Linked DNA regions of Homo sapiens. The protein of the gene in region 2 purifies or fractionates together with the protein of the main gene of each other region. This does not show direct contact. Each region holds a gene or a part of one and is shown on either strand. Other genes may lie near its edges.

Region 1 (3,537 bases), on a different chromosome or scaffold from region 2:
GGGGGTGGAGGGAGAAAGGGTTTGAGATTTGTGGTGCCTAAGAAGAGAAGCAGGTGGGGCTCTTCTGCGGTAAAGAGAAGTTCTCCCAGAAAGCATGCTAACATGAGGAAGGAAAGAAATCCCATGAGATGGCAAAACTCCTCCCAGTAACAATTGAGAACTGCCTCTTATTATTGGAAAGGGGCCACAGAACCAGTATTGAGCACATACCCTGTACTGTCTCTAATGGTTCTTTAAAAAGTTATTTTTACCTAGTTTTTTCAATTGTTTTCAGTGGGTGTGCAAACATTGGCTACTGTGACCAGAAACAGGAAAACTGCTTGACTTTTTGAAGTACCATCCTACTGTTTGTATTATTTTTAATGTAATCACATAGAAACAGTAATGATTTTACTGAGAACATCTTCTAGAGCTTACTTGGGTCCACTTGTCACCACAGAAATGCAGAATGAACCAGACAGGAAACAGGAGCTAACATGGCAGCTTTGTATAACTGCCTCCAGTTACAGGAGTCACAAATGAATAGGCATGGCTCTGTTCCAATAAAACTTTATTTACAAAAACAGGCAGCAGTCCAGTTTGGGTTAAAGGGCCAAACGTTACTGATTCCTGCTGTAGGTAGTACTTACCTGAAATAGCAAAACCTGGGTTGTAAAGCAAGGTCTGTAATTAATTTCCAACAGTTGATCAGCCGTATAACCTTGGGAAGTCATCCTACCTTTACTGAGCTTCTCCATTCTCTTACTGGACTAAACCTATACAAATGGGGACCTGTATGTGTGTGCAGGTGAAAGTCCATGAGTGTGTGAGAGAGAACATGCATGTAGCTTTCATGGATAGACTTTGGACCCTAGCTAGCCCAGAAGGTGTGACCAATATGCTTATACATGTATTTATGTTTCTCATAAACGCTCTAACACTTCATGAGATACAGCAGAAACAGTTGGGAGTGACTAAGGATTACTGGTAGTAATTTTAAGCAGCAGTAAATCTTAAGAGAACAAGATAAAAAAATCATACATACACACAATTTGCCATTAGATAAGGGACTGTAAACTTTTCAATACTACTTTTGTCTGTTTATTTGGTGGAGGAATGACGAGAGATGCACGTGCAGTAGCCAAAGATAAAAATAATAAAAAGTTAGATATGCACAAAAGTTAATCATACAAGAACTGGAAATACATTCAAATAATTGTAAGCCTATAAGAAACACTGTAAAATAGATTATCTTATGTTTAACTTTTTTTGTCTATGTATTTAATGTATTATTTCTGTTATAACCCCAAATTTTATTTATGAAAAATTAAGACCAACTTTAAGAAGCTTCAATATTCACTTTTATTATTTATAAAAAAAAATTAAGGTACCAGAGTGCATATGGTGTACTGTGATCTTGGTTTTGCAAATTTATTCATGTGTTTTACATTATTTCAATTTTAATAAACATATCATATGTGTATCTTTACAATACCTGATAAAGATTCAGCTGTCTGGCACTTACACATGTATTCATAGAGTTCATTCTGATGCTCTGAACCTCAAGAGGATGTGAAAATGACTTGCCTGTAATTACCCCAAGATGAAGATTTATTGAAGCAGTTATGCTCCAGCAACTGCCACTCATTTGTGCTGGTTCTACTTTTTCCCCTTAATTGAATGTAAACATTTGCCAAAAAAAAAAAAAAAAAAAAAAAATTCTGGAAATGAAGTTCTGTTAGTTTTTAGTCCAATAAATAATTTTAGCTACGCTTAATGTAGCTTTTTTAAGGCCTTCATACAATTGAAAAAAATTAAAGTTGAGCACGTTAAAACCCTGTTCATTTATAAAATAAAAAATAGTACTTTATAGGTTTGCAGTTAAAAGTTACCTTCCAAAACCTATCATGCATGTCATAAGCTGCAACCCAACTCGAAGTCCTAGGTGCTGGCAGGCAGGGCACATCCCCGTGCCAGCAATGTGAGGCATTAAGAAAACACCATGATGTCAGAGGTCTAGATTTACATGTATTAAGCCACACGTCAGTGAATTCTCTGATAAATACATGTCATTTTAATAATCAGTACTGGATAGTGGATGAAAACATGCATTAGACTAAAAATGCCACAAATTTGTTTTTATACCCATTCACTATAAAACTTCCTTTTTTAAAATTTAAAGTCTTGTTTCCTATTTTAGAATACGCAATAATCGGGAGGATACATGATGGGGAGCCAGTTTTCAGTAAAAGATGCACAATGGGTCCATCCAAGTAACTTCATCAGCTACAACAAAATACAATAATATATTATTATAAAGGAAGTGACAGATTTTTAAGCTCAGTATTTAGAATAAATTCTGTATTAAATAGTAACAGTAAGGTAGTAGCATATAGAACCTTCCTTCCACCAACCGTCACCCACCCATTGATCCTCCTTCCCACCAACCAACTTTTCTTACTATCAACCAACTTTCCTACCAACCAACCTATTGTTCTCATCATTATCCCTACCAACTGTCCTTTTCCCTCTTTCCTATTAACCTGTGTTCCTCCCTTCTTCCTTCCAACTTACTTGTTCCTTTCCTTCCTACCAACCTAAGTTCCTTTCATTCATTTTTTCTGAGTAACTATCATGTCAAACACTGGGAAAACAGCACTGAACAAATTCACCTCCCACTTTCAGGAAAAGCAAATAATAAGCAAATTAATAAATGAATAAACAAGTAATAAGATATTTATCAGGTGTACAGTAGAAATAATATTTGACACAATATAAACTAACTGGGGAGTTAGATGGTTAAGAAAGGATCTCTATGGAGGTGATACTCCAGTTGAGTTTGAATGACAAGAAATCTGTGCGAAAATCTGGGAAAGACATTCCATCCAGCCAGAGTAGTTAGTGCTAAGGTCCTTTGGTAGGAAAAGGTGTGGCTGTTTGTGCTAAGCAGAGATGCTGGTGTGGCAGAAGCAGAGTTTGTATGGGCAAGTGTGATATGAAATAAGTCTGGAGAGGTAGGCAGGGGCCTTATGGACCACTGGGGAGAGTTTGGATTTTATTCCAAATGTGATGGAGATTCAACAGCAGGTGTCAAAAGGCATCTTTTCCAGCTGCTGTGTGGAGAACAGGCAGCGGGGGGGGCAGAGTGGAGGGCAGACAAGTTAAGAAACACTCCCTGATGTGAACGTCGGCAGGGATCACTGGCTTTACAAACCTAAGTGCTCACGGATCAGATTCCACATGATGAGAACCACATTAGACATATCAACACCTGGCTCCAGAAAGAGTTCTCTTAATCTAGTCAAAGATCTGGAGGAGCTAATTTAAAATGTCTTACAATTTGGACTGACTGGTGAAGGTAAACAAAAAGCTCTAAGAGTAAATATGAATATAGCTTACTCTAATTATCAAACATTTTCAGAGGAACCTACTGATCAGTTTTACATCCAAAGGGTACCTTACATATAAAGTATAATTAACCTGGACTTGCCCTTTAGCTGAATCTGGCACCACCAAACTCCCCTGCCTTCACGTATCCTTTAGGCATAAACCAATTAA
Region 2 (7,064 bases):
TGGGAGGCTGAGGGGGGTGGATCACCTGAGGTCAGGAGTTTGAGACCAGCCTGGCCAGCATGGTGAATCCCGTCTCTACTAAAAATACAAAATCAGCCGGGCATGGTGGCATGCACCTGTAATCCCAGTTACTTGGGTGGCTGAGGCAGGAGAATCGCTTGAACCTGGAGGCAGAAGCTGCAGTGAACCAAGATTGTGCCACTGCACTCCAGCCTCAGAAAGAGCGAGACTTTGTCTCCAAAAAAAAAAAAAGCGATTTTAGAAAACTCCACTTATGCTTAGATTCCATTAGGCAGCTTTTAGATATATAGCCACATGTAGATGGGAAAGTGGAGCCCTTTCAGGGAAATCATGCACCAAATTAACCAGAGGCTTCTATGAAAAAGAAGAAAAAAACTAAACACACAATTTTTGTAAAATGTAAAAAAGGTCAGTGGAAAAAGTTCAAGGATATCATAATTCAAATTATGAAAAAAAACTTCACATATAGAAGAAAACAAAAAACACACTCCAAAATGTAGAACAGTGATAACATCTCGGTGATAGATATAAGGAGAGTTTTATTCTCTTCATACTTTTCTAATCTTACAATCACATATCTATTATACATTTACAGTAAGGAATTTAAAAAATTTTATTATTTTTTCAGACAGAGTCTTGCTCTGTGGCCCAGGTTGGACTGCAGGGGCATGATCATAGCTCACCACAGCCTCAACCTCCAGGGCTCAAGCCCCAACCTCCCACCTCAGCCTCTTGAGTAGCTGGGACTACAGGCGCAATCAACCATGCCTGGCTAATTTTTGTATTTTTTGTAGAGATGGGGTTTCACCATATTGCGCAGGCTGGTCTTGAACTCCTGACCTCAAGCAATTTTCCTGCCTCGGCATCCCAAAACACTGGGATTACAGGCATGACCCACCATACCGGGACCCATTTATTTTTAAAATGCCTATGACAATATGCAATCAAGTTCCTGTCCTAGAAGGAGCTTCTGTAATAGTTCAGAAGACAAGACACAACTGAAATGCCAAGTACAGGCCTATATACCCTTTACTAAAGTGATGAAATCCAAAAATAAAAAAACTTAAAAGTTTGTTTTTTAACAAGTTTGTGGCAAACTCACTTGGCAGCAAAACCAGCCTGAACTGCCTGAGGCTATCAACATAGATTTATCTCACTTAGTATGCAAATTTGTTTCACTAAAGAAATATCAATACGTTTGATTACAGGGTGCTACCCCAAGCCCCACTGGGGATGTTGTATAATCCACAGTACATGCATCCAAAAAAAATCCCAAATTCTGAAACATCTGTCCTCTGAAGTGCCAAATGAATCACAAAGACAGCACCTTAAACGTTAGAAAATTAAGAAGGGAGTCACGGGGTTATGTGGCCATCCAAGAGTTTCCCAGAGCCTGAGCCTTGAGCTGAACCTTGAAAAATATGTGTATCTGAATAGGCAAAGTAGGATGAGGGCGCATCTGCCAAAATGAATTGTGAGAGCAAAGTAACAGAGATGGGAAGAGAGAATAGTGGGCTAGGAGATCAAGACCAGATCATATAGGTTCCTCCATACTTGGCTGAAGAGTGCCATGATTTAATGTATGGGGAAGTCATGAAGGTTTTCTTAAGTGGGTAAAAATGTAATGAAAGTGGAGTAGAGGACCTTTGGGCTGGTAATGGTTTGCAGAATGGGGGAAGTGTCACATGTATGAACCAGGCACACGATGCTAGATGTTTTCATAGGCTTCATATCATTTATTCCACACAATGATTTTACACACAAAGAAGGGCACTCAGGTTGACATATATTAACTATATATGGTTAATAAATAAAGATCAGATTTAAATCAGTCCAACTCCGTAGGTCTACCCTCTTTCTATTACCCAAGGCTGCCTCTTAGGTGGAAATGACAGACGGCTGACCAAGAGTGAAAGCACTCACAACACAATAGAAAGGCTGATGTGAAAAGAGGGCAGCCAGAGGACAACTGAGCGGTGGGGAGCCAGAAAATAAGAAAATATTATCTAATGCTGTGCTTATGCAGGGCACTCCCCAACAGCCAGAAACCCCAACCTTCTAAAGAGAATTATCTGTATTCTACATGCTGCAGTCCTTCCCCTTAATTAGAAAATGTGTTTATCACAGGAAGCTAATGTTCTGACTGAGTAGATCCCACCACCTACCTAATCACTCCCTCTAATCCAGGTGTTCCACTCTATAGGTGTGAAAATCAAGTCCCATTAAACCACACATACAATCTATTGAGAGGCTATACCCTTTATGGTTTTTTATATCACAAGTTTGGAAAATGCTACACATTATATCCTGCCCCACTTTGGAGATTCACAATACAAAGCACTTTAAACTCACAAAGTTACTGGTTCACATCAATTAATCCAGAGTCTCCACTGGTGGGAGGCTGAGGCAGACGATCGCTTGAGCCCAGGAGTTCAAGACCTGCCTGGGCAACATGGCAAAACCCCATCTCTACTAAAAATACAAAAAATTAGCCGGGCGTGGTGGTGTGGCCCTGTAGTCCTAGCTACTTGGGAGGCTAAGGTGGGAGGATTGCCCAGTCTCTCCCATTATTTGGCTATAGAACTCCTTTTCAATAGAACACACTTTGGAAAGCAATGATTTAATCCATTTATTTTCCTATTCCTTTTTTCTGTATTGAAATGGTGGATCAGTTATGAAATCATGAAAGTTTGGGCCAGGTGTGGTGGCTCACACCTATAATCCCAGCACTCTGGGAGGCTGAGAGGGGCAGATCACCTGAGGTCAAGAGTTTGAGACCAGCCTGGCCAACATGGTGAAACCCCGTCTCTACTAAAAATTAGCCATGCCTGGTAGCACATGCCTGTAATCCCAGCTACTTGGGAGGCTGAGGCAGGAGAATTGCTTGAACCTGGGAGGCAAAGGTTGCAATGAGGCGAGATTGCGCCATTGCACTCCAGCCTGGGCAACAAGAGAGAAACGCAGTCTCAAAAAAAAAAAAAAAAAAAAAAAAAAAAGTTAGTTTGCTGTGGTCAAGTTAAATCATTAACATCAGTGTATCTGAGTTAAAGGAAATTGGCCTTTCTTTGCCATATGCAAATTTATTCTACCTTTGGGGATTCATGCAAGGCAGATTGTTAGAAACTTGGGTGGGGAGGGTGCAGGGGCAGATTTACAGATCTATTTTGTCTTTAAAAAAAAAAAAAAAAAAAAAAAAGAGAGACAGGGGGTCTCACTGTATTGTCCAGATTGGATTCTAACTCCTGAGCTCAAACAATCCTCCTGCCTCAGCCTCTGGAATAGCTGGGACTACAGGCATATGCCACCACACAGGGCTTATTTTCTTGATTTTTAAAAATACACTTCTTAATAAATCTGCATTTCACTTTCTTCATTATGTTTCTCTAGCATTTGTATATTTCTCAACTAAAACTCCTTAGATTCCTCATAATTACTTGTCTTAAACACCCAAACTCCTGGCCAGGTGCAGTGGCTGCCGCCTGTTAGCCCAGCATTTTGGGAGGCCAAGGCAGGTGGATTGCTTCAGCCGGCTTCAGACCAGCCTGGGCTAACACAGCAAGACCCTGTCTCTACTAAATATACAAAAAATTAGCCAGGTGTGGTGGCACACACCTGTAGATCCAGCAAATTGAGACTGCTGTGAGTTGTGATCAGGCCACTGCACTACAGACTGGGCAATGGGAGTGAGACCCTATCTCCAAAACAACCACCACCACCACCACCACCACCAAATCCCTTACCACAGCAGGGTCTAAGCAATCTGGTATCTACTGACCTCATCTCCTACCTCCTCCTGGCTCTTGCTACATTCCAGGCACAAAAGCCTTCTGTTCTACAAACTGGCCACAAGAGTTCTCCCTGACCATAATAATGCTCATCCTCTAATTTGATAATGGACACCATTCAGCACTCAGCCCACTGTCAACTCTTCAAAAAGGCCTTCTACGATTACCATCTACATCATCCTTGTTTTACTGTGTTAGCAATTACCCTCATTTGAAATAAACTTCTTTGTCGTCTCATACACACACTAGACTGCAAGCTCCTGAGGGCAGGGACTTTCGTCTGTATGCTCAGGACCTTCAGCATTACCTGGCACACAGTACATATTTAGTAAGCATTTGTTGTATGAACTAAAGGATAAGTCACAACATGTCAGTCACCCAGCAAAACATGAGTTTCCAGTCAAGACTGGAGACTATCCCTTCAGATCAATCATTAGCAGCCCCAACATAATGTGGGAACTCAGTTGCATGAATGTCAGATGAACAAATGACCAACTTAACTGCCACAATTAAATTTGTTTATTCAAAAGTACTTCAAGAAAGTGAATTTTTAGATTTGTTCTGGCCTGGCAGAATGGCTCATGCCTGTAATCCCAGCGCTTTGGAAGGCCGAGGCGGAAGGATCACTTGAGGCTAGGATTTCAAGACCAGCGTGGGCAACATAGTGAGACCCTGTCTCTACAATAAATAAAAATTAGCCAGGCATGGTGGCGAGCACTTGTAGTCTCAGCTGCTCTGGAGGCTGAGGCAGAAGGACTGGTTAAGCTCAGAATTTTAAGGCTGCAGTGAGCTATGATCATGCCATTGCATTCCAATCTGGGCAACAGAGTAAGACTCTGTCTCTGAAAAAAGATAAAATTTATCCTGTATTACCTGTTCAAACATGCCAGTGATTTTACTTTTGTTTCAGGGTTCTGTACTTACCATTCCTTCTGCCTGCAGAGCTCTGCACACGGAAAGCTACAAGGTTTGCACTGCCCACTTCATTCTCATTCAGGACTCTTGTTTTTTTTGGAGACAGGGGTCTTTGCTCTGTCACCCAGGCTGGAGTGCAGTGGCGTGATCTCAGCTCACCGCAGTCCCCGCCTCCCAGGTTCAAGCAATTCTCCTGCCTCAACCTCCCAAGTAGCTGGGACTACAGGTGCGTGCCACCACGCCCGGCTGAGTTTTATATACAGTAAAGATGCGGTTTCACCGTGTTGGCCAGGCTAATCTCAAACTCTTGACCTCAGGTGATCTGCCGCCTCAGCCTCCCAAAGTGCTGGGATTACAGGCATGAGCCACCGTGCCCGGCCTGGAAGGACTCTTTTCAAATGTCATCTTTTTTTCAGAGATGCCTTGCTGCACCATCCTATCTAAAAGAGCATTCACCTCAGTTACTCTCCATGCCCTTACTCTACTATTTTCCAAGTACATTTTATCAGGCATATTAATTTCTTTTGTCATTTACTGTGCTTCTCTCTTCACTAGATTGTAAACTCCACTGATAGTAGGGACTTTGTGCTTTGTTCACTGCTCTCTCCCTAGAGCCTTACAATAGTGATGAGCACCCGTTATATATTTGTTGTACTATTTTAAAAAGCTAGATACCTTTGATGTTTCCATCAAAAATATTATTCTTCATCTTTATTTTGGTTGGTTGACTGTGTCAAACAGAAAGAGGTGGACACAACCTTCTAGATTCTAAAACCACAACAGGCTGAGCAAGGTGGCTCACTTCTGTAATCCCAGCACTTTGGGAGGTGGAGATGGGACGATCACTTGACCCCAAGGACCGTTCAAGACCAGACTTGGCAACAATAGTGAGATCCTGTCTCTACAAAAAATTTTAAAAATTAGCTGGGCTCAGGCCGGGCGCGGTGGCTTACGTCTGTAATCCCAGCACTTTGGGAGGCCGAAGCAGGCGGATCATCTGAGGTCAGGAGTTCGAGACCAGCCTGACCAATGTGATGAAACCCCGTCTCTACTAAAAATACAAAAAAAAAAAAATTAGCCGGGCGTGGTGGCATGCGCCTGTAATCCCAGCTACTCAGGAGGCTGAGACAGGAGAATTGCTTGAACCCGGGAGGCAGAGGTTTCAATGAGCCAAGACTGCACCATTGCACTCTAGCTCTAGCCTGGGCAACAAAAGTGAAACTCCCATCTCAAAAAAAAAAAAAAAAAAAAAAAAAAATTAGCTGGGCTTGGTGATACCCTCCTGTGGTCCTAGCTACTAGGGAAGTTGAGGCAGGAGGATTGCTTGAGCCCGGGAGGTCTAGGCTGCAATAAGCTGAGGTCTTGCCACTGCAGTCCAGTATGGGTGACTGAGTGAAACCCTGTCTCCAAAAATAAAATAAAATAAAATAAAATAAAATAAAAATAAATAAATAAAACCACATAATAGAATGAAACCTAAAATGATTAAGTTGAGATGCTAGGGTAGGACTATTTTTAAGTTTAAAAAAAAGTGAGGGGTTATATAAATATGCATGTTATAATCCCTCAAAGTTAAAATACTACATAGATCCCAGAATCTTAATACTCTTTTTTGAGACAGGGTCTGGGTCTGTTACCTAGGCTGGAGAAATGCAGTGGTGTAATTCTGGCCCACTGAAACCTCTGCCTCCTGGGCTCAAGCCATCCTCCTACTTCAACCTCCCAAGTAGCTGGGACTACAGGCACACACCACCACACCTGGCTAATTTTTGTGTTGTTTCTGTAGACATGGTTCCAGTGTTGCCCAGGCTGGTCTGGAACTCCTGAGCTCAAGTGATCCGCCCACCTTGGCCTTCCAAAGTTTATTCTTTGGGAATATTCTTTAAGGAACTATTTGTCAACAAATCCTTTTTATATCGCCTTGCAGATATAGTCTATAAAACCGAATTCTAAGCTTATCCTTAATTTGAGAAAATAAGAGAAATCAGGGACTTTTAGAGAACATTTTACAGGTATTCATAATTATCAACAAGATCAAGCTCTAATTATCTTATGCAACCACAAGTAAAGGTACTTTGACACTCTGAAATATTAGCAATATATAAATGCAAAAAGTGTTACTGATCTAAAAATGACTCAAACTAGAAACAAAACATTCATTTTGGCCAAGTAGGGTGGCTCATGCCTGTAATCCCAGCTCTTTGGGGGGCCAAGGTAAGCAGATTGGTTGAGTCCAGGAGTTTGAGACCAACCTGGGCAACATGGTGCCATCTCTACAAAAAAAAAATAAAAATTAGTTGAGTGTGGTGGTGCACGCCTGTAGTCCTAGCTACTCGGGAGGCT

The links. The genes of interacting proteins can lie anywhere in the genome.
Region 1: the proteins of CSE1L (region 2) and TPP2 fractionate together in Homo sapiens (co-fractionation; 2 studies listed by BioGRID). This does not show direct contact.

Annotation. Positions count from the first base shown.
Region 1 is NC_000013.11:102,676,955-102,680,491, reverse strand, and holds the end of TPP2 (tripeptidyl-peptidase 2), read right to left. Parts: intron 2,266-3,537; coding exon 2,176-2,265; 3' UTR 534-2,175; downstream 1-533. UniProt on the Homo sapiens protein: Cytosolic tripeptidyl-peptidase that releases N-terminal tripeptides from polypeptides and is a component of the proteolytic cascade acting downstream of the 26S proteasome in the ubiquitin-proteasome pathway.
Region 2 is NC_000020.11:49,049,301-49,056,364, reverse strand, and holds part of CSE1L (exportin-2), read right to left. Parts: intron 1-7,064. UniProt on the Homo sapiens protein: Export receptor for importin-alpha. Mediates importin-alpha re-export from the nucleus to the cytoplasm after import substrates (cargos) have been released into the nucleoplasm.